Homo sapiens: one gene and its partners. The protein of the gene in region 3 interacts with the protein of the main gene of each other region in a biochemical or structural test. Each region holds a gene or a part of one and is shown on either strand. Other genes may lie near its edges. The genes, in order: UMOD, TLR4 and FCN1.

Region 1 (10,396 bases), on a different chromosome or scaffold from region 3:
CTGTCCTGGATGATGAAGTACTTCAGGGGGTCCGTGGCATTGCTACTGGGTGTGGCATAGCAGTTGGTCATGAGCAGTGCAAATCGGGACAGGTCGCCCCCATCCAACATGGTGCCCACGTAGAGAAAAGCCTCAGTGGACAGTGTCACGGAGGAGCCTTGGTAGGGCTGCGTGTAGGAAGGGGTCTGGAAGAGCGCCATCCGCACGGTGAACATGCCGGTCCCGCCCACTCTGATGTTTAGAGCACTGCCAGGGGAGAAGGGTTGGTGAGAGGACCGGGCTGAGAACATCTGCAGATAGGCCACCTTCTCTGATTTGCATTCCTAGGCAGTCCCTTGCAGTTATTTGCATTTTTATCCAGCAATAAGAGTGGAACCCACCAACTGTTGCTTTGCAAACCGCAATAAGTACACGCAGGTCAACTTGGGATCTAGATAAAATGCAGGCTCTGATTTGGTGAGTATTGGGGTGGGGCTCAAGGTCCTGCATTTCTGACAAGTGCCTGGATGCTGCTGATGCTGCTGGTCTATGGATCAATCACATCTCAAGTAACACATCCAGTCCCTCACTTGCTACTGCTATAGGCTTTGCTACCCCTGTAGCTTTCAAGATGGCAAAAAAACAAATTATTGACAGGAACACCTGGATTCCTTCTTTGGTCTCAATCTAGAACAGGTTAAAAGGTATTGAGCTATGATGAGGCCTACAACTTGCGTCCTGGCCTCCATCGTGATGTACTAACATCTATATCAGAAGATTGAGGTTTATAAATGAGTTATTTTTAACCACACTGAAAACAGCCACACTGATGTGAACTTCACTGGATGATCCAACAAAGGACATTGTAAGGCTGATGCCTCATGAAATAAGGCACATGAGAAATACTCCGAAATGTGGAAGTCCATTTTACAGATGAGAACTGAGTTATCAGTGAAGACTGGGGTGAGATGTCTAACTCGAGACAGAGAGAGGGACCAGGTGCTGTGGCTCACGCCTGTAATCCCAATACTTTAGGAGGCATACGCAGGAGGATCATTTGAGGCCAGGAGTTTAAGACTAGCCTGGTCCATGTAACAAGACCCTGTCTCTATAAAAATATTTTTAAAAATAGCCCAGGGTGGTGTGGTGGCATGTGTCTGTAGTCCTAGCCACCTGGGAGACTGAGGTGGGAGGATTGCTTGAGACCAGGAATTTGAGGCTGCATTGAGCTATGATTGTGCCACTGCACTCCAGCCTGGGTGACAGAGTGAGACCTGGATTCGTAACAAAACAAAACCATAAAACAGAGAGATGTGGGCACACTTGTTGTTCCCCAGAGCCTACCAGGCCGAGGACGGGGCCACATTGCTCCAGGACACTGCTAGGCCAGGTGAGGTTCCAGCCAACAGCTTGCAATGAGCACTCTTCTTCCTCCAAGTCAGCTGTGCACCCTCATCAGTGCCCAGCATCCTTTCCTGAGTCTGGCTGGCCAAGAGAGCAGAAAACCATGGGCAAGCTTCGAAGGGAAGGTCATGGTCAAGTGGAGGCTCTGGACCTGATGTCTGAATCCCAGCTCTATCACTTGCTAGACTTTACAGCTTTGGGTAAGTCACTCAAACTTCTGTGAGCCTCAATTTCCACATCAGTATAATGGGAATAGTAATAATAATGATACCTTTATCTCCTAGGGCTGCTGTAAGAGTTTGATGAGATGTTCCAGGCAGAACACTGGCTATAATGCCTGAGATATAGTAAGCTCTCAATAAATCTTAGTTCTTGGCAGGGCACGGTGGCTCACACCTATAATCCCAGCACTTTGGGAGGCCGAGGTGGGTGGATTGCCTGAGGTCAGGAGTTTGAGACCAGCCTGGCCAACATGGTGAAACCCCGTCTCTACTAAAAATACAAAACTTAGCTGGGTGTGGTGGTGGGCACCTATAATCCTAGCTGCTTGGGAGGCTGAGGCAGGAGAATCACTGGAACCTGGGAGGCGGAGGTTGAAGTGAGCCAAGATCATGCCATTGAACTCCAGCCTGGGCGACAGTACGAGACTCCGTCTCAATAAATAAATAAATAAATAAATAAATAATCAATAAATCTTATTTCTTATTACAACTATAATTTTCCATCATTGGCCTGTGATTCATCCTATTTGAAGATTTTCAATTTTATTTAGCAACAGATTCCTTTTAAAAAAAATAAAATAAAATACTACGTGGCACCCAGTATGAATAGTTTACCCCTGTAGGCACTCTGCCAGGGCACCTCCCTTGGCCCCTACCAAGACACTTGCAAGGAGCGTAATTTTTAAAATCCTCTTTAATCAAATTCCTTTCATTCACAGAGAAGGAAAGAAGTTGAGGTCCAAATATGAAATATGATTTGCCCAGCATTCCATAGCAGTCTGGACTGAGACCATTCCTGCTCTCTGGCACAACCACCCTGCCTCTTTGAAAAGTAGAGACTTTAATATTTGATTCACATCTGAATCATCTACATCAGTTTAATGGTTGAATCTGATTCACATCACAATCATAGCTCTAAGCAGCCTCAAATTCCTGGGCTCAAGCGATCCTCCCATATCATTTAATTCTTAGAGTACTATTAAACCCATTTCACAGATGAAAATATTGACACCTAGAGAGGGACTATCAATTTCCCAAAGCCAGGCTTAATAACTCACTCAAGCTCATACAACTAGTAAGTGACAGAGCTGGGGCTTGAACCAGGCAGTGCTTTGACTCTGTCCCCCACTGGCCAGGGCATAACCATCATTTATGACAAAGTCTAGATTTGAACCTGGGCTCCAGAATTCCTGGCTCTTCCATTGGGCAACCCTGATTCCCAGCCCTCACTCCCAGCTCCCTGTGGGTGGCAGTTGACAGGGAAGCTCATGGTTAAGGGGTTTGGGGTTAGAACCATCTAGGGGCCCTAGGGACCCTCTCTGGCCACACCTGACCATTGGCTGTAGGGCGGTCTTCAGGCTGACTTTCATGTCCAGGGGGTAGGAGCATGCAAAGTTGATTTTGATGTTGAGGTCACGGATGATGATCTCATCTGCCAGGTAGAGGGTGTTGCTGTAAGTGGCATGGGTTTCATTCCTCTGTTGCAGGGAATGGGGGTGGAGGGGGGGTGGGGATGAGAGAAAGGGGCATGAGAATCTGAGTAGGACTTCAAAGCTAAATCTGCTGGTCTCATGTCTGGCTACTTGTGAGCCGCTCTCCTAGTCTCCTTGATAAAAAGCTGCCTGTGGCCGGGCGCATTAGCTCACGCTTGTAATCCCAGCACTTTGGGAGGCCGAGGCAGGCGGATCACCTGAGGTCAGGAGTTCGAGACCAGCCTGTCCAATATGGTGAAACCCTGTCTCTACTAAAAATACAAAAAGTAGCCGGGCGTGGTGGTGGGTGCCTGTAATCCCAACTACTCGGGAGGCTGAGACAGGAGAATCGCTTGAACCCGGGAGGCAGAGCTTGCAATGAGCCAAGATCGTGCCACTGCACTTTAGCCTCGGCGACAGGGAGATTCCATCTCAAAAAAAAAAAAAAAAATCCCACAACAGTTAAAAACTCCCTGTGCAGCCTGAACAACGAGCCAATTAATCATCTTTTCTTTATAAATTAGAAAAAAAAAGTTACAACAGCAATGACCATTCATGCGCATATGTCATGTGCCAGACCCCGAGTGGAATACCCCTCCTGAGTCATAGCATTAGTTCCTTCAGTGACCCTAACAAGTGGCGCTGCCACATCCCTGCTTCCCAGACAAGAAGACAGAGATTCATAGTAACAGAGTCACTGAGGGATTGCCCACAATATGTGACATCTCACAAGACTAGACTGTTTTCAGCACCCCGTGCTTCCTCTCTTGAAAACTGAAAACCATATGCCAAGTCACCATCAATGGAATTTCAAATGCCATCCTTGGAAAATGACATGAATTATTTCTTTTTGTTTGTTTGTTTTGGGACAGAGTCTCACTCTGTCACCCAGGCTGGAGTGCAGTGGTGCAATCTCGGCTCACTGCAACCTCTGCTTCCTGGGTTCAAGTGATTCTCCTGCCTCAGCCTCCCGAGTAGCTGGGATTACAGGTGCCCACCAACAGGTCCAGCAAATTTTTGTATTTTTAGTAGAGAAGGGGTTTCTCTGTGTTGGCCAGGCTGGTCTCAAACTCCTGACCTCAAGTTATCCACCCGCCTCGGCCCCCCAAAGTGCTGGGATTACAGGCGTGAGCCACCATGCCCGGCCAACATTAAATCTTTCTTTTTCTTTCTTTCTTTCTTTCTTCTTTCCTTCTTTCTTCCTTTCTTCCTTCCTTCCTTTCTTTTCTTTTTTTTTCTTTCTTTCTTTCTTTCTTTCTTTCTCTTTCTTTCTTTCTTCCTTTCTTCCTTTCTTTCCTTCCTTCCTTCCTTCCTTCCCTCCCTCCCTCCCTCCCTCCCTTCCTTCCTTCCTTCCTTCCTTCCTTCCTTCCCTCTCTCTCTTTTTCTCTTTCTTTCTTTCTTTCCTTCCTTCTCTTTCTTTCTTCCTCTCTTTCTCTTTCTTTCTTCCTCTGGTAATGAGGGAGGTGGCAGGAGATAATGCTCTGCTCACACAAACATTTACCTCTGGGTTTCATTTGAGGAGGCCTCTGTAGGTGAGGTCCTGATTCTCTGTACATTAAGGATACAGACCTTGCCTTCCAGGACCACTGGAGACAAATAGACTAGTTTCTGAACCCAATGCTGATGCCTACTGGCTGAGACAATCCCTACTATGGCCCTACTTTTCCCATCTGTAAAATGGAGAACTATCACCATGAATTGCTTTCTTTATTTGAAGCTGATGTTTATTGAGCACTTACTGTGTGCAGTCACTGTCCTAATCACTTCAACACATTAACTCATTCAATCCTCTCAATACACCTGTGGAGTAGGTACTATTATTTCTCCACTTTACAGTTGATGAAACTGAGGCACAGCCAGGCTAAATAACTCCCCAAAGCTTCTATAACTAGGAAGTGATAGAGCTGAAGCTTGAACCAGGCAGTGCTCTGGTTCTGTCCCCCACTGGCCAGGACGTACCGTCAACACTGTCCCACAGGGGCCATCCCGGGCTGGGGTCACTACAGACACCCAGTCCCGGTTGTCTCTGTCATTGAAGCCCGAGCACCGGCTGTCACTCAGGTACATGAAGACCTTGTCGAAGCCCAGACTCTTCAGCTGGCACTTGCCCAGCGACACCTTCATGTCATTGGCCCCACATTCCAGCCTGTGCTCCAGGAGGGAGATATCTGAAACAGGTTAGGTGGGATTGAGGACGTGTGTCTATAGCTTGGGGGCCCAGCACATCCCCAGGGGCCAGGTCCAGCTGGCTGGGCTGACCACCATCTGGAAGTGCTCAGCATAGCCTTGAGCTGATCTGTCCCCTCCCAATGTGATGGGGACTCAAGATTGGACCTCTGACATCAATGGATACATCCACTGACCAACCACTCAGTCTTGGGTTCCCCTAAATGTGGGTTATATACCAAATGCAGGACGGTTTTGGGGGGTTTTGATGTCCCAGCATTAAATAACAATGAATACTCGTTTAAAAAAATAAAAAGGCTAGATGCGGTGGCTCATGCCTATAATCCTAGCACTTTGGGAGGCCAAGGCAGACAGATTACTTGAGGTCCAGAGGTCAATTTCCTTGTCTATAAAATGAGAATACGCATCTCCCACAGTAGTAATAGTAGCCAAAGGAGATGATGCAAGTTACATATGTATACATATGTAACAAACCTGCACGTTGTGCACATGTACCCTAGAACGTGAAGTATAATAAAAAAAAGAAAGAGAGAAAGAAAGAAAGAAAGAAAGAAAGAAAGAAAAAGCAAGCAAGCTGCAATTACTTTCTACCCTTTTCACATCAAGGAGACAGTCCCAGCTTGCCACTAATGTCTTTAATGCCATGTACTCACTAACTTCCCTCTCTCTCTCTTTTTTTTGAGACGGAGTTTCTCTCTTCGGCGACAAGCCCAGGCTGGAATGCAGAGGTGCCATCTTGGCTCACTGCAACCTCCGCATCCTGGGTTCAAGTGATTCTCCTGCCTCAGCCTCCCGAGTAGCTGGAATTACAGGCACCTGCCACCAGACTCACCTAGTTTTTGTATTTTTAGTAGAGATGGGATTTTGCCATGTTGGCCAGGCTGGTCTTGAACTCCTGACCTCAGGTGATCTGCCCGCTGCGGCCTCCCAAAGTGCTGGGATTACAGGCATGAGCCACTGCGCCCGGCCCACTAACTTCCCTCTCAAACAGAGAGCAGGCCTCGGGCTGAGAGTTTGGGGCAGGAAACAACATCCAGCCAGAATTCTTGTTTAATTTTTTAAAAATTGAAGTATTTTTCTAATTTTTAGTATTTATTTTTTAAAATTTGTTTTATGGAAGTATTACACAACTGCTGAAATTTAGTAACCTTCTTTTCTTTTTAGTAACTTTTATTTTTACAGTTAACTTTCTGTCTAAGGTAAGCATAACTTGCCACAGACAGATGAAGTCCTGACCATCAACATTCCAAATTTGCTTAAGAGATTCAGTCCATTAGAAGAAAAACAACTTAATAAAAGTCATGGCACAGGTAACACTTGGATAAAGCAAGTGAACCAGGGTGCCAATTGTAAAGTTGGCACTTGGATGTAACTAAAATCATGACTGAAGTCTGAAAATACTATTTTCATCTTCAATAATTGTACCTATGAGAAATCTGAGGCTTGTGCCTGGCCCGGAGTACTGAGCTGATTGGTGGACTGGTCATCAGGCCTGAGCTGATTGGTGGACTGCTCACCGGGCCGGGCTTGTGTTCTGGTGCTGCAGGAATAGGGCTCAGATGGTCTTTGGCTCCCAGATGGCAGCAACGTGGGTGCCCACTGTGGTGTGGGCCTCAGAAAGAAGGCTGGGTGCGAGGAGGTCCCCAAATCTTTGGCAGCTTTGAAGTCAACTAAAGGGAGACTCAGGGAGCCTCAGAGAGCCTCTTGCCGGCTTTAATGGGTATTAGTGGATCTTCTGTTTTCACTCAGGTTGGATATATATCCCCTGCGTCATACCCATATGGCCCCAATCTCACAGGGGAGGAATGTGTCCCTCCCCCAGGCAGTGACAGGTTTCTCAACAACCCGCTTCCTCCCCACTGGCCTCACCAGTGATGTTGAAGTCCTGTTTGCACTGGCAGTGCCATCTGCCATTATTCGATTTGCAGTCCTCGTCTATACTGCACTCCTCACACGTCCCCTCCACGGAGCTGGGGTCTGCAGGGTCACAGGGACAGACAGACAATCAATAAGGACGCACCCCCGTCCTCTGCAGTGCCTTTCCAGGCCTGGGATGAGGACTGTGGGGAGACTCCGGCTGACCTGTGCAGTACGCCAGGTGACACTCGGGGGGCGCTGTCAGGTTGTAGACGTAGTAGCCGCCGGCACAGGCCTTCACCTGGACGGACGCATCCCACAGGCAGCAGTGGCCGCTCCAGTGCGCGCAGGCCTTGCGGCTCACGATGCCCTCGTCGCTGGACGGATGCGTGCCATTGAGCCACATGGGGGCGGCCGTGTTGCAGCGCAGGACTGGCACGCAGGTCTCGGCCATGCGCGCACCGCCCTGGCCCACGAAGCGGTACCAGCCGCGCAGGTCCGTGTCGCAGGCGTAGCCCTCCCCGTACTCGGTGCTGCGCCAGTACTCGTCCAGGGTGCGGTGCGCCTGGCACGGATCCGCGCACACGAGCGCGTCGCCCTCGGGCACGCAGTCCAACCCCGGCCCGCAGGAGCCCGGGGAGCACTCACAGTGCCATCCATCCCCCCGGTAGCCCGCGGGGCATACGCACAAGTAGCTGCCCACCACATTGACACATGTGGCCAGGGCGTGGCAGTGGCTAAGCCCAGGCTCAGCGCACTCATCCACGTCTGTGCAGCCGAGACCGGGCGACAGGCGGAAGCCTTCGGGGCAGACGCAGGAGAAGGAGCCTGGCGTGTTTACGCAGCTGCTGTTGGCGGAGCAGTTGTGAGCTCCAGGAATGGCGCACTCATCCAGGTCCACGCAGGTCAGGCCATCGCCGGTGAAGCCCTCCTGACAGGTGCACGTCGTAACGGCCTCATCCTCCGTGCAGGTGGCATTGCTGTGACATTCAGAGCACCATCCTGTGGACAGAAAAGCCCAGCTTCAGGGTTTGGGCAGCTGGGCCCATGGCCACCCAGAGATCCTTCCCTCATTCTCCAGGGAACTCATTATTTTTAAGACTTATTCCCTAGAGGGCTCCCTCCAAAACAAGGAAAGAAGCAAAGAAACAAAACTCCTCTGATGATGTCAAGCCTCCACCGTTCATTCTGTGTTTATTTCATTGTATTTTTTAACTTTATTTATTTTTTTGGAGAGGGGTCTTGCTCTGTCGCCCAGGCTGGAGTGCAGTAGTGCGATCATAGCTCACCATAGCCTCCAATTCCTGGGTTCAAGCGTTCTACTCCCTGAGTTCAAGCCACCACCGCACCCTGCCTCAGCTTCCCAAAAAGTTGGGACCACAGGCACGTGCAATCGCGCCCAGCTCCACCATTCATTTTTTGTGTTAAGCATTGCTTTCAAGCTGTCTTCTTTTAAAATAGCCACATTCAGAAAAGTAATGCGCAGAATTCCTATACTTTGGTAGGATTTACGGTGAACCTGTTGCCCCTCCCTTTCTTTGCACATTTTATGTTTTCTGCTTCCCTGGCTGGTGAAATCTTCATCAGGACCCTGCTCAGTGTCGCCTCCTCTCTGCGGAGTCCTCCAACTCCACCTGGCTGGGCAGTTGTACTTTGTTCCTCCGTAATAAAAATAACCATTAAAAAAAAAAAGAAGCTGTTGTTTATTAAGCAATTACTATATGCCAGGCAATAGGATGTGCACTTTTCACTCACTATCTTGTTGAATACTTCCCAAGGGCCTCGTGAGGTCAGTTTTTTATGTATCCTTATTTTAAAGATGAGGAGACTGAGGTTCAGAGGGATTAAGCCCCTTACTCCTTTGGTAAGAAGTAGAACCAGGATAAAAACGCAGATGGCAGGACCACAAAATATGTGCTTTTAACCAGGACACCGCAATAGTATTCATCGTGCCCCAACGTACTCCAGGGAGAAAATGAAAGTGGGGTGACAGCAAATCTCAACCCAATGGAATGACCTCTTAAAGTTGAAAGGGAAGGTGTTTGGATCCTCCTGCATGGGTTCAAATCTCCTATGTGATAGAGTATGTTTCTGACTTCCAATAAAGGGCCTGCAGGCCTTAGAGATGTTCTAGCCCCTTGCTTTTCAATGTGTACTCCAGGGACCCCAGTATGAGCATCGCCTGGAAGCTTGTTAAAAATTCAGCATCTCAGGTCCTACTGCAGATCTGCTGAACCAGAATATGCACTTTAGCAAAATTTCTAAGTCAGTCCTGTGCATATTGAGTCTAAGAAATGGACTTAGAATGAAGACAATGCAAGTCTCAAGTGCGATAGGAGGATTGAGATCACCTCTGACAGGTGCTACATTGCTTCCCCCACACATTCACACATACACGTGCATACACACATATACAACGCACACACACTTTTCACTTACTTGCTTCTGAGGTGTCAGTGGCTGCAGTTGTGATGAACCAAGAGGCCACCACCACCATCAGCATCCAAGTCAGAGATGGCTGCCCCATCCTTTCTGCTCTTCCCGCTACTTCAGGTCTAGATAGCACCTGCCCAAAGGAAAGACGGGTTGGCCCTTTGAATTTTTCTCTCTGTCTCTGATGTCTGGTGTCCTGTGAACAGAGATGGATGGGACAAATGCATGATCTAACTCTCCTCCCCACAGCTGGAAGGAGTGCTTTGATTGTATAGTATACAACTCCAGGAGGTGTCACTTATATGGACTAAAAAATTGCATAACACTGCAGCCCTTGTTTTGCTGGGACTTTACCCCTTGTACTCCCCCTCCTTACCTCACCAACATCCCAGTCTTGGCTCCCCAATTCTCAGCACATTGCACATTTTGAAGAACTCAGTCATTTGGAGCAGGAAGTAGCCAGATGGAATAGTGTTCTGGACTCACCACTTTACTGAAGGCAGCTTTGGATTTTAACTGATCCTCTGCCTGGAAACTTTCAATTTGCCTGGATCACTTATTCATTCAACAAACATCTATTGAGTAGCTACATTGTGCCAAACAGGGAGCTAGTCACCATGGAGAACAATGAACATGGCAGTCTGCTCCTTCATGCAACTCACATATCGTAAAGAAGTGGCTTGAGACGAGCAACTTGAGAGGTAATTAACCTTCACAATGCATTTAAATGTTTCTGGAGTGGTCACTTACTATTTCTTCCAATTGGAAAAATAGTCCAGGGTGGATGCCAGTATTACCCCAGTGTTTATAGCAGCAAAATAGGGTGGCATGTTGGTTAAGTAT
Region 2 (10,629 bases), about 17 Mb from region 3:
ATAAGTGAATGAAGATGAGACTCCACAAACCAAGCTTTCCAGTCCAATAATGAAATGACAGGACAATGAACACCTCACCTTGTGCAGTATGTAAAAGTGGATTCATTACCTGGATAAATCCAGCACCTGCAGTTCTGGGAAACTGAAGAAGCTATAGCTGCCTAAATGCCTCAGGGGATTAAAGCTCAGGTCCAGGTTCTTGGTTGAGAAGGGGAGGTTGTCGGGGATTTTGTAGAAATTCAGCTCCATGCATTGATAAGTAATATTAGGAACCACCTGCAATGATTACACATGACATGAAGTATCTTTACTGCATGGTCTCCCAACTCCCCTCTCCTAGACCAGAGATGGTGGAGAGGGGCCTCTTTTTGTGCAAGCACAAAATTCAGTCAACCTTTCATCCATCTGTCCATCCTTCCATCCATATATCCATCCATCCATTCACTCAATTCATGCTTATAAATTGTCTTACTCTAGATTAGAAAGTAAAGAGCACCTACTACGTGCTCAGCATTCTAACCTCCGTGATAAAACGGCAGCATTTAGCAAGAAGCAATGGAATCGGGGTGAAGGGCTGAGGCTCCGGAGTCTGAAAGCTCTGGGTTTCATGCCAGCTCTTCTGTGTGGTTTAGGGCCAAGTCTTTAAAAACAAAACAAAATAAAACGAACAAAAGAAAAACCTCAGTGAGCCTCATTTTATCATATGTAAAATGTAGGTAATAAAATATCCAATATCGTGCTTGCTGCAGTAGCACATACACTAAAATTGGAAGGATACAGAGAAGATGAGCATGGCCCCTGCACAAGGATGACACACAAATCCATGATGCGTTCCATATTTTCATGATCTATGCAGCAAATCACCATGGCACACATTTACTTATGTAATAAACCTGCATGCTCTGCACATGTGCCTCTGAACTTAAAAGTTGAAAATACAAAAAATAAATAAAATATCCAGTATCATTTTAAATACTCCATATCATTGGGGAGACTGTCTGGCAGTCAAGATGTCCAGACCTTCCTTAGTCATGGCCCAGATTTTGACAACTGCATTCTTTTTCTTGGCTCATTGACCCTTGAGCAAAGTGATGTAGAAATAGGGGGAAATCTTTAGAGTGCATGGATTCCCATGGTGGAACCTAGTAAATAAGGTCAAGTGCTTTATGCTGTCTTTGTTTTTACACTGCTTTCTAGCCTACTTTCCCACATTCTTTGTAAGCCTAATTCTCTAACGCTCCCATCTAATTTCTGAATGCTCTCATTTCCTCCAACAAAATTCCTTGCAGAAGCCAGCTAATTGTAGTTTTCTGTTGTTTGAAACCAATAGAATGTTTGAAGGATTAAATGAGATAAGGTGTTTAAAGAGTTTATTTAAAAGCCCGCTACAGTATAAGTGATCAATAGATGTCAACATTAATTATTATCATCTATCATTAATCCCTTACCATATGCCTGCATAGTTCTTGTTTGTTATATACTTTCACTTAATCTTCAAATAAGCATTTAAAGATGAGGAAAATGGAAATTCAAAGAAATGAAGTAATATGCGCAAAGTCAGAGTTCAAACATGCAGATCTTCATTCGTATGTCTGCTTAAATGTTGCAAGCCATGGAGCCTCAAAGACAATATTGTCTAATAGAAACAGTGCCAGGCACTCTTTCTTTGCCCTCTTTTATTCCCTTTCACGGGAAGCACAACCATCTAACATTATGTTGTCTATCTGATTGTTCTCATCGTATTGTTCATCTCCTGTATTCCATTGCAAGTTTGATGGGTTTGCCCACTGCTTTGTCTCCAGCACTCAGAATGGTGTCTGGCAAATGGTTGGTGCTCAATAAATATTTGCTGAATCACTAACTGATTGAATAACTGATTAAATGAAGGTTTACTTAAGTCCAAATTGTAGGCATTTCCTGCCAAGTGCTGTGGGCATTACAAAGAAAAATATGATGCAGCTCCAGACTTCAATGGACTCACAGTCTAGAGTAAGAGTTTAGATAGGAGCAAAGCTAACACTATCTCAAGGGGCCATAAAATAGGCTTAGAAAATATGCCCTGTGGTTCAGAGAAAGCAGAGATCAAGTCTGGATTCAGGAAAGGCTTCCCAGAAAAGGAAGATTTTAAAGTGGGTCTTGGAAGATGAGTAAGGTTTAGATATGTGGAAAGGGGAAGAAAAACATGTCCTAAGGAGAGGACAACGTGAGCACGTAAAGAGTGGAAAACAAACTCAGATTAGCTGGTGAGTGGTGGGAGTGGTGAAATCTAAGTAAGAGGGCAAGCCAGATCAGGAGGGCCTCAGACTTTGTCCTGCAGCAATTATTTCAATCATTTATCACTTACACATCTAGCGGCTACTGTGTGCTGGCCACTGGAAATATAGTGGTAAATAAAACCAGCAATGATCCTGCCTCCTTACCGATTCCATTACAAAGGGAGAGAGAGAAAATAAACAAACAAAAATATAAAATGTTGTGCTCTAGAAAAAAAAATATTAAGCAGTATAAGGGGATTTGAGGCAAATAAGTGAGGCTGGAGAGCTCTACATGGGGCAATCAAGGAAGACTGCCCTGAGGAGGGGACATTTAATCAGAGATCTGAATGGAGTGATTAAAGCATGAAAAGGACTTGGGCTGCACTGACCAATACGGTAGTCACTAGCCATACACAGTTATCAAACACAAGAAATGTGAATAGTGTAAATTGAGAAGTGTGGTAAATGTAAAACATATACTAAATTCCAGACTTAGTACCAAACAAGGAATGTAAAAATATCAATAATAGGTAAATATATATTAAAATTTTAAACATTATTTTAAATACGCTAAGTTAAATAAAACTATTATCGAAATTAAATTCACTTGTTTCTTTTTTTAATGAGGCTACTAAAAACTTTAAAAGTACATATGTGGCTCACATAATATTGCCAATGGATAGCACTGATCTAGCATTCTAGGTAGAAGAAATAGCCAGTGCAAAGGCCCTGTGGTAGAAAGCTGTTCTAATGGCAATGGAGAGTTATTAAAAGTTTTTAAGGAGAGTAATTTGTTAGATTGAAGCCTAAGGAAAAATAATAACAACAAATGCAAGTACATAACAAACAAGAACGTGCAGAATGAATTAAAGGAAGAAGACTGGAATCAGGAAAGCAGTTAGTGTGTAAGAGTCAATGCCAGGGGAAATGAGGGCCTGCCTTACAGTGGAACTAAGGGGATGGGCAGGGATGGACAGGCTTCAGGGACTGACAGGAAAAGGTACATGGGGAAAAGAAGTCAAGTTTGGCTGTGGTTTTATCTCGCAGTGAGCCTAATTAGAAAATCTATCTCCATTAACCTAACAGCAGAGGGATACAGAGAAGAGGACAAGGAGGAGGACTATGGGCAGGGAATTGAGGGAAGGGATGGCTTCAAGATAATGAATTAGTCTTTGCTAAATATTACTTGATTTTCTCCTATATCCTCAACTTCAGGACTGCAGCTGGCTTTTTCTCTCTTGAGTTTCTGACCCTGCCTCACTGTAAATCATTTTCTTAGCTGTTCGGCTCTACTATGGGTTTCTAAAGCAACTGTGAAGTCTGCGCAGGGGAAAAACAAAAGAGATCCATCATGAATAAGATTACCAACCAGCTGATTGGTATTTCACTAAGAAAGAAACTGTTGCATTAGCTGACATTATACATATTTCCCTCTTGCTTTTTTCTTCTCTCTCTCTCTCTTTTCCTTTTTCATTCTCTTATTTTTTTCATCCTCTGGACTAAACTATATTACTGCATACAGAAGTCTGACACCCACTTAGAAAGTTCTTTCTCTAGAGACACACACACAAAAGCCATCTTTTTCCTGAGATTGAAAGGAGCAGGGTGACTGCTTGAAGCTGAGTGTAAAGACCACCAGTGGGAAGAAATGACACTGAAGCAGTCTGCTTACTCTCTAGTGAAGAAGGTATTATAATTCTCTTACAGATGCGAAAACTAGTCTCAGACAGGTTTGATAATTTCTTCACAGAGCCACAAGGTAGCAGAGCAGGGACCTTAAGCAGATCTATGTTATCTCATGCCCCTGTTAGCACTCAAAATTTCCAAATGGAACAAACCCCCAATGGCTGCCTCTAGTGCCCTGTAACAATGAATTATTTGATCTCTGTGGCTTCTTGAGTCTTTAAGGTAATTTAACTCTTTTTTTTTTTTGCAAAAATAAACAAACCAGGGCACACAGTGAGAAGTTCTGGGCAGAAGTGAGGGAAAGTTCAGAGGAGCTGACTCCAGCCACATACCTCCACGCAGGGCTCCCAGCTTTCTGGTCTCACGCAGGAGAGGAAGGCCATGGCTGGGATCAGAGTCCCAGCCAGGCGCGAGGCAGACATCATCCTGGCATCATCCTCACTGCTTCTGTGAGCAGCAGTGGCCCTGTGAATGCGTGGCTCGCTATCACCGTCTGACCGAGCAGTTTCTGAGGCACTGGTGTCTTCTCTTCCTCGAGCCGCCCCACAGCAATTGGTGTATTCAAAGCAGTTCTGGGCTAAAGGGTGAGAGGAAGTGAAAGCGGCAACCTTAGCATTCTGGACTTTTGTTTCTCTAATAGTTATCTCTTTTGTCACAGGAGAGGAAGTTAGAAGAAGAAAACGCCTGCAGACCAGTGGCTAAAGAAACAGCAAGAGGAAGCTAGTTGGCTTTTATCCCAATTAGTCATCTGACCTCTGCCTGGGCTTGGTGAATTTAGGAAAACAATCAGGTTCTATTAAAATAGCCCTTGTAACTCTCTAGGATGACGGTGATTTTCCAATTTTGTTTCAGCTGTGGAAACACTATTTGTATTAGTTTGCTGGGGCTGCCATAAGGAAATACCACAGACTGGGTGGCTTAAACAACAGACATTCATTTTCTCACAATTCTAGAGGCTTCCAGTCTGAACTCAAGGTGTCAGCAAGTGTGTCTGAATTCTAATCTCCCCTTCTTATAAGGACACCAGTTATGTTGGATTAGGGCCCACCATAATGACCTCATTCTACCTTACATACCTCTTTCAAGGCTCTCTCTCCATATACAGTCATAGTCTGAGGTAGAGGGGTTAGGACTTCGATATGTAGGTTTTTGCAGGACACAATTTGGCCCGCCCCTTCTTGTGAAGAAACTCACATACAAAACTGAAAATAAACCTCAACTGAAACACAGTTTGAAAAGTACAAGAAGATTGGGAAAAGTCTGGGATTTCAGAATGGAATATACTGAAGTTCAGATCTCAGCTGGGTGACTCATGGCTTTGAGGCATTGGTCAAGTCATGTAAACCGCTAAGCTTTACTTTCTTTCTTTTCTTTTTTCATTTTCTGTATTATGGTAAAATCACATAACATAACATGACATAACATAAAATTTATTATCTTGACCATTTGTATGTGTACAATTTAGTGGCATTAATTATGTTCATATTTTTGTACAATCATCACCACTATTCATTAATAAATAACTCCCCATTTCCCCTTTCCCTAGGCCCTTGAATCTATGCACTACTTTTGTCTCTATAATCTTGACTACTCTAGGCAGCTCTTAGAAGTGGAATCATACAGTATGTATCTTTTTGTCACTGGCTTATTTCACTTTGCATAATGTCCTCAAGGTTCTTTTCTGTGTAGTATAGATCAAAGCCTCCTTCCTTTTTAAAGCTGAACAATATTCCATTGTATGTATAGACCACATTTTGCTTATCCATTTGTCTGTTCATGGACACTTGCATTGTTGCCACACGTTAGCTATTGTGAATAATGCTGCCATAAACATGGTTGTACAAATATCTCTTAAAGTCTCTGTTTTCAATTCTTTTGGATACGTACTCAGAAGTGAGATTGCTGGATCATGTGGTAAATCTATTTTTAATTTTTTGAGCACCCACCATATGATTCTCCACAGCATCTGTACCATTTTACATTCCCACAAATGGTGTACAGGAGTTCTCATTTTTTCACATCTTCACCAACACTTATTATTACTTTCTGGTCTGTAAAATGTGGTAATCACTTTTAATCATAGCAGAAGCTTGCATTTATAAAATGTATTAAAATAAAGATACGCAATGGTAGTCAAATTATACAAACCTACCAACCTTTAGTTTTCTGGTCTTTAAAACGAAGATAATCGCATGTGTTTTGAATTACTGAATTAAGCTAACTTACGTAAAACGTCTAGTCTAGAGCATCATCATTACATTCCATAAATGAGAGCTATGATGAGGATTGAAAATGTGGATAGAATGAAGATGATAATATGTATCTCAAAGTATTGTATTGGGATTAAATGAACTGGCATTTGTAAAGCTTTTAGGACAGTGTCTGGAAAGTAGCAAGTGCAATGTAAGTTTCTGTTAAATAAGAACCTGATTTAAAACAGGAATATTATGCATGCTAAGTCCTAGATAGTTCTACTGTAATATCCTCCAAGCACTTCCAATCCAACGTGTCAAAAACCAAGCTGTGAGGGACCATTTTGTGGTGGACTGGGCACAAACTCTTGTAGACTCCATCAACACACCAGTAGAGTTAAGATAAAAACAACCTCCATGTCAAAGCTTTGCTCTGAGTATTGAGATTATTCATGTAAAGATTTTAGAGCAGTGCCTGACACAGAGTAGGTGCTCAATAAAGTTTAGTTCCCTGGAAAGTTAATGGTGTTTCACTTTGACATAGTCATCCAAGGTGGAAATCTCTTTGACTTTATTTCCCTTACTTCCTCATTTCTCATGCTAAACATGTATTAACCCAATTGTCTTCTTTTCTGTGTTCTTGATGTTCTGGCATCTGGGAAGAGACTGCACTTACCAGGGCTAGTTAGTTCTAAAAAATAGCAAAAGATTTGCTCTGGAGCATGCCTTATGCACACTAAGCAATCCAGAGCCCTTCCTCTGAACCACCTCCTCTACCTGGCTTTTACACCCAAGTAGACACCGTTATTCAGCCCTAATCATCACAGGTCCAGGTACCAGACAACTAGAGACAGACCCTCTACCCCAGAGCCCACTGAGGTTATTCAAACTAGCCAGTCCTATCCCTGCTTACCCTGCCTTGCCTTGCCTTTTCTGCAGTAACAACAATAAAAGCTTGTGCCTATAATTTCCTCTTGCTCCCTCTGCCTCCTGACGGACTCTGGTGCTACCAATGTGGCCCTGCATGGTGTGGCATGCCCCCGCTTCTTAGGAACTGTAAACAACAAACTATATTTCCAGTGGCATCATCTTCTGATCTGTTGTTTTCACCATAGCCGAATAATAAAACCTACATTTTAAAAAATGTTCCACCAAGTTGTAGAAATTGTATCTGTAAAATAATTCCAAAATGTCAGTCGCCATTTCTACTACCATTACTATTGAACATATCCCACGGCCTAGACTAGTTCAATATACTTTAAGAAGCCTCCCAAAGTCTAGATTCACCTCTTTCAATGTACCAGCTCTTCCAATTGATTCTTCATCCTGCTGTTGAAAACATCTTTCTAAAATAGAAATACGTTTAACTCATGTCATGCTAATAATGATTTCAGGCTGGGTATTGCCTAGATAAAAAATCTCCTGGCCTACCCCCATCACATATACACATACAGAAACACTCCACTTCCTAAGAATGAGAAACAAATATGTGGGTCATTTCAAGCCAGACATAACTAGACCCCATTACTGGGACACAGTGCTTAAGTGAATAGAGTAATACAAGTGTGTAATAGACAAATGCACTTTCTTCCCATCATTTGGAGAGGAAACCGCTTGATAGTCTAGATGAGGAACTAAGGAAAAGGGCCCAGGGAAGTCCTTTCAACTATGTTTTCGGAGATGTTAATACATGTGTTTTATAGAAGTCTTCCTGGAAATTTTTCCTATGTGTGATTGGAGAATCCCTGGTGGTGACTTGTAAAGAGGTTTCCTTTTCCTGGGAAATGAATGGGATTAACACTCAATCATTTACTGACCTTAATCAAAGACATCTAGGTTCTATGTTGCTCTTCCAGAAGGCAGACCATGTGTCAAATACAAATTAGAAACTGTAAGCCCCTTGGTTATCAGATCTAACTTGCTTATGTTGATGAACTTACCGATGCAGTATTATAATGAGGTAAGACCGTGGTGATTAGTTACCATTAGGCCTATAATTTCTCCCACAGTAGAATAATAACCACCTCTTGTTTTCTTTTTTTTTACTTTTATTTTTACATTCAGAAGTACATGTGCAGGATGAGCAGGTTTGTTACATAGGTAAACGTGTGTCATGGGGGTTTGTTGTACATAATTAATCGCATCTTAAGCATAGTGGTAGAGATTTGGCCAGAGGCAAAACAAGCCACTTGATCGCCTACATCCTTCATGCAGAGCAAGTTCAACTCAGGACCCATAATCAGTCAGTCAATGGAGGAATCCCATATTTGCCAGGGACCTAGAAGTGTTTGCTTTTATTTGGCAGGTAATGCATATGCTGTAAGAAATATGCACAAAACTGACAAGTGTTAGACTAAGCTAATTGCTGTATAAACTTCCAGATTTTATTGTGACTTAATAAAAGTTTTCCTGGCTCATGAAACACTCAATGAGGATATTTCTGATTGGATTACCCCAGGTATGATTCCTGGTTCTAGGCTTCTTTTATTTCATTATACTTTCATATTCAACATGCAGCCTCCAAGTTTACTGCAGAATGTGAAGAAAGTAGGGGATGATATCATGTATTTAACTACCTCTGCTCAGAAGTGACATGCATTATCTCTGCTCTCATTGCATTTGACCAAAACTAGACCCAACACAATACCAAGTTGCAAGGGATCTCTATCTTCTAAGCTTCAAGGCTCTTCCCCCTACCCAAAACTTAAACACACACACACACTTAATGGTGAGCACCACTTCACAGCACCAATACTATACTGTGGAAGAGGAACACAAAATTCTGTTGATCAGCAGGTTGTATTTATGCCACAACCTTAGAATCCTATAATTTCCATTGCATAGTGATTTTAAAAAAGGTCCCATTAACCTGACATATCTAAAAACCAAACCTCATTCCATCCAACCATCTCAAGTTTTTAAGTTTCATGTTTTTTTCATGTCAACACCTCTCAAAGCAGAATGGTTCTCATATAATTGACAATATAGTACAATTATAATTGGCAGAGTTTTTTTTCTTTCTTAGTGGCAAATAAAGTAATGGTACACCTTATAATCAGTGGTACCTTATATACAACAACAGTTTGTTACTAGGAAGAAAAAAAAGCTCTGTTCAGGTAAGTAAAAGAAACAAATAGTTAAACAGAGAAAAACAGATTTATTTTCTAAGGACTCCTTAGAACATGTATTAGACTAATGTTTATTTTGCATCTATGAAAGGAGATAGAGTACTCAATGTTTCCCAACTTTTTGACCCATTCAACCCTCTTTTATCCTTGGACACCCATTACCAGTCCAGAATCCATTAATGTGCCATGGACCAATGCTCTTGTGGTATATAGTACAGAAAATGGTGCTTTTAAGCAAAGGCATAAAGGGTATTCTCTTGGCTCCAGGTGACTTAATTCCTGTCTCTATGGTGAGGTCTTCACATTAAGTACTGCCCTGTGCATCTCATTATTTTCCTCCCAAACACCCTGTACATTTCAGTATGTTCTTCACAAGTACAAGAGGTGAGTGAGTGCACCCTCACAGGTAATCAGCCTACATAGTGCCATCTCCTCCCCAGACCAAAATGTCTATGACCTTTCCTGTGTTATTTTTTAAATTACTTTGAATTTCTCATCTCTTTATTATCTGCCTCTACCAGTAGAATACAAACTCCATGAGAATGGAGGCCTGGTATGATGCTCACAGTTATTAAATGCATGGGTAGATACATAGTTAAGTAGTTGATGAATACATCTCTGAACAATATATCTGTATTTATTTTTAACATGTAGTGAGTATCTTAGAGTATTTGTCACCTTTGCATATTGAGCAATGTGACTATCTTACTAGAGGTCTATTGATTATTCTGGGGCTTCTCTTATACTTTTCTACATCCCTATATTACATTGAGATTCATGTACCCTAGTTCAAGCAACAGAGAAGGACAGAGTCATAGCAAGTGGATTTGAAAGGAAGTCTTGTTGCAGTAAACACTATGTTTTTTCCTGAGGTAGAAAAATCCTTTTTGTCTATTTATTCATGAATAAATAGGCAAAGGATGGTTCATTGCAGGCAAGAGGGTTTTCCCTCTTTGTTCTGACTCCCAGTTTGGCCAGTGAATCCAAGCTTATTCATTCATACCGTGGAAGAGCATGGTGTAATATAGAAAAGGTGTACTAGCCCATTCTCACACCTCAATGAAGAAATACCCAAGACTTGGTAGTTTATTTAAAAACAAAACAAAACAAAACAACAACAACAACAAAAAAGAGGTTTAATTGACTCACTGTTCTGCAAGGCTGGGGAGGCCTCAGGAAACTTACAATCATGGTGGAAGGGGAAGCAGACATGTCCTTCTTCACATGGTAGCAGGAAGGAGAGGTGCAAGCAGAGGAAATGCCTGGCACTTATAAAACCATCAGATCTCATGAGAACTCACTCACAATAATGAGAACAGCAGCATGGGGGTAACTGCCCCCATGATTCAATTACCTCCCACCAGGTCC
Region 3 (10,396 bases):
TGGTGCACACCTGTAGTCCCAGCTACACGGGAAGCTGAGGCAGGAGAATTGTTTGAGCCCAGGAGGTGGAGGTTGCAGTGAGCTAAGGTCATACCGCTGCACTCCAGCCTGGGGGACAGAGTGAGACCCTGTTTCAAAAAATAAAAATAAAAAATATATATGAAAGGGAGTTTGTCAGGCAGCAAGAAGATGATCTCACACCAAAAATAATAATAATAATAAAATAGAAGAAGGAATAAAGGGCAACATAAAGTGTAAAAATGTGGTAAAAATGAATACGGACTGCACAAAACAATACTAATAGCCATTTCTTGCAGGACTTTAAATAAATGTATCATAGCATGGCGGCAAGAATGGCATAAAAAGCAGAAGGGAGTGAATGTAGTTAGAGGTGTTTCAAAGTCTTCATTGGTAAAGTGGTAGAAGGAATAATTTATAGTATACCGTAAAAAATCAAGGCTATATATTGCAATCGCAAGCATAAACACCAAAAGATAGGAAAAGAATGAACAAGTTATAAGCTGATAGAGGAGGTGACGGGATAATAAAAATATTCAACAAAGACGAGAGAAGATGAGGAAGGAGAGGAAAAGAACAGAAACAACACTATGTGGATGTCCACGAATGCCCAAATGTTGCTGGATGGGCCCACGCCTACACTCCTACTTGAGAGGTCCCATGGCCAGGAAGAAGAGCACTGGCCCAAGAGGAGGAGGGCTTGATTTCTTTTCACCCATTCAGCTTTATCCCTCAAATCACAAAAGCTCTCTCAGTTCTGCTGATGTGAGTTGGGGAGGAATTGGTGATGGGAAAAGACTCTTCATCTCTTCATAAGCTTGCTTTGCTTCTTTTATTTTGAGACAGAGTCTCGCTCTGTCGCCCAGGCTGGAGTGCAGTGGTGCGATCTCGGCTCACTTCAACCTCTGCCTCCTGGGTTCACGCCATTCTCCTGCCTCAGCTTCTCGAGTAGCTGGGACGATAGGCATCCCCCACCATGAACGGCTAATTTTTTTGTATTTTTAGTAGAGACGGGGTTTCATCATGTTAGCCAGGATGGTCTTGATCTCCTGACCTTGTGATCCGCCCGCCTCGGCCTCCCAAAGTGCTGGGATTACAAGCGTGAGCCACCGCGCCTGGCCGCTGCTGCTGCTTCTTCTTCTTCTTCCTCTTCTTCTTCTTCTTCCTCTTCCTCTTCCTCTTCCTCTTCCTCTTCCTCTTCCTCTTCTTCTTCTTCTTCTTCTTCTTCTTCTTCTTCTTCTTCTTCTTCTTCTTCTTCTTCTCCCTCTCCCTCTCCCTCTCCCTCTCCCTCTCCCTCTCCCTCTTTCTCCTTCTTCTTCTTCTTCTTTTTATTTTTATTTTTTTTTTGAGGCGGAATCTCGCTCTGTTCCCCAGGCTGGAGTGCAGTGGCACGATCTCAGCTCACTGCAACCTCCACCTCCCGGGATCAAGCGATTTCTGGCGGAGTTTTGTATTTTTAGTAGAGAGGAGGTTTCATCATGTTGGCCAGGCTGGTCTTGAACTCCTGATCTCAAGTGATCCACCCACTTCAGCCTCCTAAAGTGCTAGGATTACAGGCGTGAGCCACTGTGCCCAGCCTGCTTTGCTTCTTAAAATTAATGTTCAGTTTCTGAAAGCTACAAATTCAAAAACTCAATTCATCCTGAATATTTTAAGTTTGGCTTACAGTTCTTGTTTTTCTATTTATAAGACCTGCAAATCTTAAGAGTCACCTTTTTAGAGCTTTTGGATACCATAAATTTAGTTCTTTAAATAACTTCAAACATTTAAAATTGCAATAAGAAGTGGAATACACTCAAATTTCTCCTGCGGCATTTCAGCTGTCTAATGAGAAAACCCTCCTTAGCACTAATTAATCTTTAAAAATCTAATAATTTAACTTAAATCTTAAGAAATCTAATAATTTAACTTAGAAATGCAATGAGCTCAAAGTCTCTTAAATATGCCAATACCGTGTATAAACGCACTAAGATTTCCATGTAATATTACAAGATGATTTTGATTAGTTAGTTCCACATTTTATATTGGATTTGTGAGATTCTTCATAATAGGCCAAATTATTTAAACATTACAAGACTGTGAAAAATCAAACCTGTCCAGATTCCTTAATACAAAAGGCATATTTTGGCCAGGCACAGTGTCTCACGCCTGTAATCTCAGCAATTTGGGAGGCAGAGGCGGGTGGATCACTTGAGGTCGGGAGTTCAAGACCAGCCTGGCCAACACGGCGAAACCCCATCTCTACTAAAAATACAAAAAAATTGCTGGGCATGGTTGTGTGTGCCTGTGATCCCAGCTACTTGGGAGGCTGAAGCATGAGAATCTCTTGAACCTGGGAGGTGGAGATTGCAGTGAGCTGAGATCACGCCACTGCACTCCAGCCTGGGTGGCAGAGTAAAACTCTGTCTCAAAAAACAAACTAAAAGGCATATTTCTATGGCTATTTTATATTTATATTAATCATATTTATATTTTATATTTATACTAATCATTTCTAGACTTAAAGCTAAGTCTTCCTAGGTTGTAAAAATGCTTACCTACTGAGGGACGAAAGTACTATCCCAATAGTGGATTTTGTGATGGACTAGAGATTGTGGCAGGGGCGTAGTAGGGTCTGGTCAGCCCCCAATGGGCTACAAGGACCTCTCCTTACAGGTATTGAGTCAAGAACACTGGGCATCAGTGGAGGATGTGCCTGTAGCTCATGTTCCTGGATCCAAGCATGTGCAGTTTCTTTATAAGTAGTTTTTAAATTGTGGAACATAACATGTACTCAAAAGTGTATAAAGCAAAAGTACAGCTTAATTATTTTCATCACTAGTTAACAAACATCCTTACAATCACCACCTGGGTCAAGAAACAGAGCATTGCCAGAACCCCAGAGGCTTGTCCCTGTCCCTTCCCAGTCACCATGTGGTCCCACCCTCAAATACAATCACTTTCTTATTTTTCCTGTATACATTTACCACCTAAATATGCATCCAAAATACCATTGGCTACTTTTGCTTTTGAAAAACTTTATCTACAATGGAATCCATAGCACATACCCTCTTGAACAGGCTCCTTTTGCTGCCATGTTTGTGAGACTCATGCTCCTTGTGTGTAGGTGTCACTGTGTAATTGTCATGGCTGTATGGCGTTCTACCCAATGGCTATCCTTGCATTTTTTAACATCCATTCTCTTCCTGATGGGTATGTCGGCTGATTCCAGTTTGGTGCTATGGTGAGTATTTGGCTGTAAAGATTCCTGGCCATGCTCCCTGGTACACATGACGGCCATATCCAGGCCCTGATGTGGGACTGGCAGGTTAGAGGACTGTGTGTCTTCTTCTCCAACAGTTGATGCCAAGCCATTTTCCAGGTTGGTTCCATCAATTCGCATTGTTACTAGCAGTGTATGCAAATCTCCCTCCCACAGTCACCTTTGACACTGGTGCTATCCATCTTTCTAACTTCTGAGGCTCAGATGAGGGTGCCGCAGTGACTCCTTTGGGTGCTGATTTGCATTTCTCTGGTAAGTGAAAAGTGGAGCACTTTTTGATAAATACCTTGCTCCCCTGCATGTCATCTTCTGTGAAGTGTCTGTTCACATCTCATACCTTTTTTTATTTAACTGAGCTGCTCTAATTCTTTTATTATTTGCAGGAATTCTTTCAGGTATAAGCCTGTGATTTATTTATTTTTGTATAAGGCATGGTAGGCAGAATAATTCCCTGCCCCCACCACTGCCCCGCCAAAAATGTCCTGCCCTAATACACACAAAGTCAGAGCCTGCAAATACCTTCCATGGCAAAAGAGACTTTGCTGATGTGGTTAGGGATAGAGACCTGGACATGGGAGAGGATCCCAGATCATCCAGGTAGGCCTAGTCTAATCCCATGAGTCTCAGGAGTGGAGACCCTGTCCCATGGGGCTTGGGGGGAGAGGGGACAACGGATGAAGGGTCAGAGAGATGTGGTGCTGCTGGCTTTGGGGTTGGGGGAAGGAGTCCGGGCCAATGAATGCCAGTGACCCCTGGGGCTGGAAAAGGCAAGGAAGCAGGTTCTCCCCTAGAACCCTGGAAGGAGCCACCACTGCTGAGTCCTGCCTGCTGGCCCAGTAAGGCCCAGGGACTCCAGATCTACTGAGCCAGGAGGTGGCGAGTTCTTGTTGTTTCAAGCCACTCCATTTGTGGTGACTGGTTGCGGCAATAGTAGAAAACTAAAGATTTGTGTGCCGCACGTTGATTCTGCCCCTCTGGCCTTCCTTTGGTTCCCTTAGTGTCCTTCGGTAAGTGGGAGCTCTTGATTTGAATGGAGTCACACTTGCCACATTCCCTTTGATGCTTCTTAGGTCGTGGTTGAGAAATCTCCCCTGGCCTGGGAGCTGGAGAAGCCCCTTCTCCATCATCTCCTAGAAGCCTTGTGCAGCTTTTCCCACTGAGGTCCGCGGTCCCCTCTAGCTGAGGTCTGTGTGTGGGAGGAAGGCCTCTTCGGAATCTTCTCTGTGCAGGTGGCTGACCAGGCGCTCACTTAGTGAGTGCTAAGTGTTTATCTCTTCCCAGCAGCCAGCCAGCCCAAAGCATGAACTCTGCCGTGGTGGGAAGCAGAAAAGTTCCTACTAAACTTTCCCCCTTTTTAGTAAGTGTTTTCTGGACCCCAAAGTGACCTTTTTCAAGAAGTGTGAAGTGTTGTGAGTGAGGCATGGGGGGATGGGGGAGGCTTGGGGGTGGAGGTGAGGATCGCCCTGTGTCAATTACTGGAGGTGGAAAATCCTCGCAAAAGTCACTCAACCTCCCTGAACATCGGTAGTGCCATCTGCTAAATAAGGGTCCTGACTCTTCCCGACTTACCAAATTCCAGGGAAAGACCTGCCGTGCAACAGACACAGGAAAGTGATCAAAACCACTGGTGTTCAAGAAACACACATTGAAACTGGTAAAACTTTTCTGTCCCAAAGTAAACATATTTAGAAACATAATTCTCCCTCTGGTGAGGTTGTGGGCATGTGGCGGCTTGACTGAGCTGGGGGCAAAGGGGCAGCTGTGGGCGTCATGGGAGTGTGTCTGGCTGGGGAAATGGGGTGACTTCCACGACGCAGCGCTTGTGGGTGTGGCCTCCCCACTAGCAGGTGCATGTGGAGGGGTCCTGGCCCGTCTAGGCGGGCCGCACCTTCATCTCTGACACCTTGTAGCTATATTTGTACCCCTTCGCCGCACTCCAGTTGATACCATTGGCATAGCTCTCATGGGGTCCCATGAGGTAGAGACCATTGAGGTTTGAAGCATGACAGTCGGCGTACCACCAGGCTCCTTGGAACTTCTCAGCACAATTCGAAGAACTCACATCATTGTCTTGGTCTTTGGTGGAGAAGAAGTTGTTGTTGTGGCCCGTTAGAGAATTACCTGCTCACAGAAAATGTGGGGTTTGCAGATGCTGGAAAAAGCCCTGCCACTGTGAGACCCTCACCACATCCTGCCTCTGAGCAGAGCCAACCTCACTTTAGCGACGCATGAGCCGAGCTACAGGTGCACAAATGACCCACCCAGGCCTTGGAGGAAGGGGAAGCAGGAGGCAACCTCTGGCAACCTGGTCTGGAAATCTCTCTCCACAACCTGAGGCCCCTGCTCCAGCAACCACCTGTTTCCTCCAGGGCTCCCGCAAACTGTCAGGCCTCCTGCTCTCTCCTGGAATGACCTCCCTCCTCCAGCCTGCGCCGCTCCTTCCGGTCTCTCCCCACGTCCCCTGGTGGCCCTTGGTAGGTTCAGGACAGCCCTCACCTGGGGGCTTCTCCTCTATCTCAAGCCCTGAGCCGGAAGCTCATCCCTGGCTCCTATAGCTGAGAAATGTCACCCCCTGAGCCTCGGTTTTACCACCTGCAAAATGGGGGTGACCTTCCCTGCCCTGCTGCCTTCCTTGGAGGTCATGCGTGAGATCGTGCCTGTGAAAGGACTGCACAGACTCCAAGGCTGTCATTTCCAAGGCTCCCCTGGGACTGCCTTGCTCCATGGAGCAGTTAGTTACACAGACTTCCAGCTGCAGCAATTCTCAGTGCCTTTCACGAACGATGTGCACTGGGAATTCCCTAAGCAGACGCCCTGTAGGAAATGCCTCCCCAGATCGTGTAGCCAGAGACTCCTTTTGGTAAAGAATGTCCCACAAGGCTGGTGTTCCATGGAGCACAGTTTGGGAAACAGCTCCAAGGCACCCATGAGAAAAGGACGACGTCTTCCAGGTTTCAGCAGTGATGCTGGTGGGTCGTCTCAGCCCTGCCCAGGCAGCTCACTGTGCGGCAGACATAGCCTTAGGAATACCAGCCGCTATGTCCTGTGAGCCCCACGCTGTACAGAGACACAAATGCTAGTGTCTGCTTCATAGATGGAGAAATGGGATTCAGAGAGAGGAGGGCCCAAGGTCACCAGGGGAGACAGAGCCAGGTTCTCTCTGCTTTCCAAGCCCCACTCAGGCCACCAGCCCCAAGCAGACACTCACCCGCACTGCCCCCGACAAAGGCTCCCAGTACCAGCTTGTACTTCTCTGCCTCGTCAGCCACCTTGAATGATTTGTACTTAGCAAACTGGTGGTTGCCCTCAAAGTCCACCAGGTCTACACGGAGCTCGCTGCTTCCTGTTGGAAAAAGATTTTAAGGCCCCAGCCTTTAAGATCTTTCTGTCACCAGGCATGAGGGCTGGGGATGGGTAATTTTTTTTTTTTTTTTTTTGAGACAGAGTTCCGCTCTTGTTGCCCAGGCTGGAGTGCAATGGCACCATCTCAGCTCACTGCAACCTCCGCCTCCTGGGTTCAAGCAATTCTCCTGCCTCAGCCTCCCCAGTAGCTGGGATTACAGGTGTGTGCCACCACACACAGCTACTTTTTTTTTTTTTTGTATTTTTAGTAGAGATGGGGTTTCACCATGTTGGTCAGGATGGTCTCGATCTCTTCACCTCATGATCCACCAGCCTCAGCCTCCCAAAATGCTGGGATTACAGGTGTGAGCCACGGTGCCCGGCTGGGGATGGATATATTCTTAAGGGATGTCTGAACGTGGCATCCAGGAAAAAAATCAACCGGAAATGTCAGAAAATCCCTTGTTGCTATCAGGCCCTCAGGGATGGCTTTCTGTTTCTAAACACCTTTCCCGTTATTTCAGAGAACTGAACATGCCCCACTGGAGTTCACTGGGTGGAAGGGAGCATTCTTTCATTTTGAAAGTGTACCTTCTCCTTCTAAGGGTTGGTGAGCCACTAACACAGCAGTGGGCGAAGCTCTAATTGTAGTTTCTTTTGCAGGAATTTGAGGCACCTGAGTGGATTCCTTCAATCATGCCACAGGGCAGTGGGCAGGGATAATGGACCAGCAATTATACAGACTGCCTCAGGACCAGCTGTGAAACTCATCCCCTGCCCCAGAGGGTTGGGGGGAGGCCCTCTCACTCAGGTGAGTGCGGCTGTGGGGGGCCTGCTGAGGCGTGGGCTGGAGGAGGCGAGCGTGGGCTCTCCATGGGACTAAGATGCCAGCTTCAGAGGCAGATCAACAGCTGGAGATGGGGGAAGGCTACCCCAAGCCCCAGTGGTCTCTCTCCTGCTTCCCACTCTCAGGATCTAAGATGCCAGTAGGACCAAGACCTGAAGAGGCCTTCAGCCCAGGGCTCTAACCGTTTCCCTTCCCGATGTTGCCAGAGCCTGCGGCAGGGGACGCAGCCCTTAGAGGTCCCAGTGCCACCTGAGTGTGCTCAGGGCCCAATCCCCTGTGGGCCAAGAGGTGCTTATGTTGCAGATGGCCCAGGCCTAAGGGGCAGGAGCACCTCAGGGCCCCCCAACCCCTGAGCCACGGCAGTGGCCCTACCCTGGGCAGTCAGGGCGTGGATGTTGTCATTCCCCAGCCAGAACTCCCCCAGCTGACTGCCGAAGCCCTGCTTGTATGCGGCCCAGTCCCGATAGAAGTCCACAGAGCCATCCATCCTCCGCTGGAAAACCTGTGAAGAAGCCAGGATACAGAGTTAGGCGGGGCAGGCCGAGGTCCCACAGCACCGGGGACCCGCCCTCCAGAGGAGCAGCATTTGTAGTTGGCAGAGCATCACAGGCCGGTGCCACACGCACGCCCATCTGGTCTCCTCACAGACTCCACAGGATGAAAGAGGAAATGCGGTCTCAGAGAAGAGAGGCAACAAGCCCCAAGCCACACAGCAGGAGAGCACCGGTCCCCTCCCAGCCTCCCCGATGGCCTGGACTTTTACCCACGGGTCACTTCCCCCATCATCTATGATTGTCCCCATCCAGGGGAATAGAGAATTCCAGAGTGTGTTCTACAACCAGGTGTGCAGCCTGGCCTCCGGGACTCCCAGGCTGACCGCCTCTGCCCAGCCCCACACTCACGGTCCAGCCCCCTCCGTCCGTGTCCATGTCACAGAGCACAGTCAGGGGCCGGCAGTCGGGCAGGTAGATGGTGTGCCAGCCGCTCAGGAAATACCCCCGGTCTAGCAGGTCCTTGCAGTTGCGTGGGCCTGGGAAGGGAACCCGGGGAATGGCTGCAGGACGGGGGCCCTGGGCAGGACAGGGGCAGTGGGAGGGAGGCCCAGGAGGGAGGAGGAGGGCCACAGGCTTCTGTGCGGACCGAGCAGGACTCCGAGGCCTGGACAGGGACACGGCCCCCAGGGCCACGCAGCTGTGATGCCCACACCCAGTCTGCCGACCCTCCCACCTCCCAGTGTCTGCCCCACCTTTGCCTCCTGGGCACCCGGCCTTCTAGGGTAGATAATAGTAGAGCCCAGGTTGTCATGGAAGGGATTCAGGTGATAGCTGCCCATTACTCGAGTGATTGAGGGGGGGATGATAGGTGCAGACAGGGTTCTGTCCTTAGATTCCGTAGCGTGAACGTGTGCAGCTGGCCCCAGGGGTGGGGGCAAGGCTTGGGTACCGAGGTCAGGGTGTGATCAGTCACCTGTCGCACACGACTGAGACTGCCCAGCGTCTCCTGTGTGGGGAGAGGAGACACTTGTCATAAGCTTGAAATCAGAGCCTTTGTCCTGGTCAGCCCCAGTGGCTCCCTGAGCACAGAATAGAGAATGGGCAAAGGCAGCTCCTCTGATGTCTCCAGGACACGTGGCACAGGCCTAGGGAAGGATGGCCAGACTCGACTTCCCCAGAGGCACCAGCCACATGGTTGTCCATAGGCCCCTGCTGTGCAGCTTGAGCTTGGTGGGCTGTGGCAGGCGCTGCGGGTCCTGCTGGACGAACTGGACCCCTAGTGGGGCCTTCGCCACTGATAACAGCGGAATAACTCTTCAAGCCTGGCAGGGTCACTCCAAGCCTGCCCTGCCTCCGCCCTGGCCTCTGTTTCTTGGGACTCAGGTATCGGCGGACCCTCAGCCCCCGGCTCCGGTTTTCATTTGTGTTTGTGGGTGGAGCGTGGTACAGTGTATTAGAGTCTTGCACATTTGGCTTTTTTAAACTTTTACAATTTTTGCATAAATGAGCATAAGTAAGACAGAAATTGAAATATTGAAGTGTCACCATCTATGCACTGATGTGGTCCTGCTGGCCACTGGGAGTGACTGCTGTAGACACCAGGGTTTGAGCCCTCGTGGATTCTGACAACAAAGCCCGCTGGACTCCTTCCACCCCTCCCTGCCCACAGCCTGGATTGACAGGGACGTGGGCGGTGGGCAGGCGGACTGAGGCCTCTGAGACCCCTCCCCTGGACAAAGCCTGCAGAGACAACTGCCTGGGCCCACGGGTGGCTCACCTTTCTCTCCACGCATCCCCTTCTCTCCTCGGTCTCCTGGAGGAAGAGGCAGGATAATGAGCTTTTGACCCCAGATGTGTGGGCCACGGAAAGGCTGGTCCAGAGTGGGCTCCCGGCCTGGACACTGCATCTCCCCAGCCCTGCAGGCTCACTAAGGCATCACAACGCCCAGGTCTCAATGGTGGGGAGGGGCCCCGAGGCCTGGAATATCCCAGGGTCCCTGTCCGCCTGCCACTGTCTTTCTCTCTCTGTTGCCGTGTCTCTCTGTGTCTGTGTCTGTGTCTCTGTCTCTGTCTCTCCCTCCCTCATTTCATTACAGACAGCTCCAAGGTCCCTGCTCAAGGCCTCCTCGCTGTCTGTCCCCTGGTTACCTTTGGGCCCCACTGGTCCTGCCTTTCCAGGGGCTCCAGGGAGACCGCGTTCTCCTGAAAATTCCAAAGACATATCACTGAGAAAAATGCAACCTAAACAATTCTCCCTGGAAATCTTTGCCCCAAGTGGTTAAGTCCTGACCCTCCCCCACTCTGCCTTGAACCCCTTCTGGTTCCAGGAGCTCTCAGAATTGCTAGCCATGGATTTAGCCTGGGGGTGACTGCAGATGGAGGTGAGGGATTGAGGGAGGGGCCTGCACCCCACCTTGGGCTCAAGGCAAGGTG

What was found.
Region 1: the proteins of FCN1 (region 3) and UMOD form a complex in vitro, tested with the Homo sapiens proteins (one study listed by IntAct).
Region 2: the proteins of FCN1 (region 3) and TLR4 form a complex in vitro, tested with the Homo sapiens proteins (one study listed by IntAct).

Annotation. Positions count from the first base shown.
Region 1 is NC_000016.10:20,341,091-20,351,486, forward strand, and holds part of UMOD (uromodulin isoform a preproprotein), read right to left. Parts: intron 10,089-10,396; exon of another isoform or gene 9,930-10,088; intron 9,750-9,929; 5' UTR 9,648-9,749; coding exon 9,560-9,647; intron 8,780-9,559; coding exon of another isoform or gene 8,681-8,779; intron 8,123-8,680; coding exon 7,346-8,122; intron 7,241-7,345; coding exon 7,133-7,240; intron 5,245-7,132; coding exon 5,036-5,244; intron 3,083-5,035; coding exon 2,934-3,082; coding exon of another isoform or gene 2,831-2,933; exon of another isoform or gene 2,281-2,830; intron 1,465-2,280; coding exon of another isoform or gene 1,324-1,464; intron 247-1,323; coding exon 1-246.
Region 2 is NC_000009.12:117,698,210-117,708,838, reverse strand, and holds the start of TLR4 (toll-like receptor 4 isoform A precursor), read right to left. Parts: upstream 4,437-10,629; 5' UTR 4,367-4,436; coding exon 4,274-4,366; intron 641-4,273; exon of another isoform or gene 521-640; intron 277-520; coding exon 110-276; intron 1-109.
Region 3 is NC_000009.12:134,904,645-134,915,040, forward strand, and holds part of FCN1 (ficolin-1 precursor), read right to left. Parts: intron 10,166-10,396; coding exon 10,112-10,165; intron 9,777-10,111; coding exon 9,741-9,776; intron 8,970-9,740; coding exon 8,937-8,969; intron 8,500-8,936; coding exon 8,372-8,499; intron 7,972-8,371; coding exon 7,842-7,971; intron 6,624-7,841; coding exon 6,489-6,623; intron 5,402-6,488; coding exon 5,154-5,401; 3' UTR 1-5,153.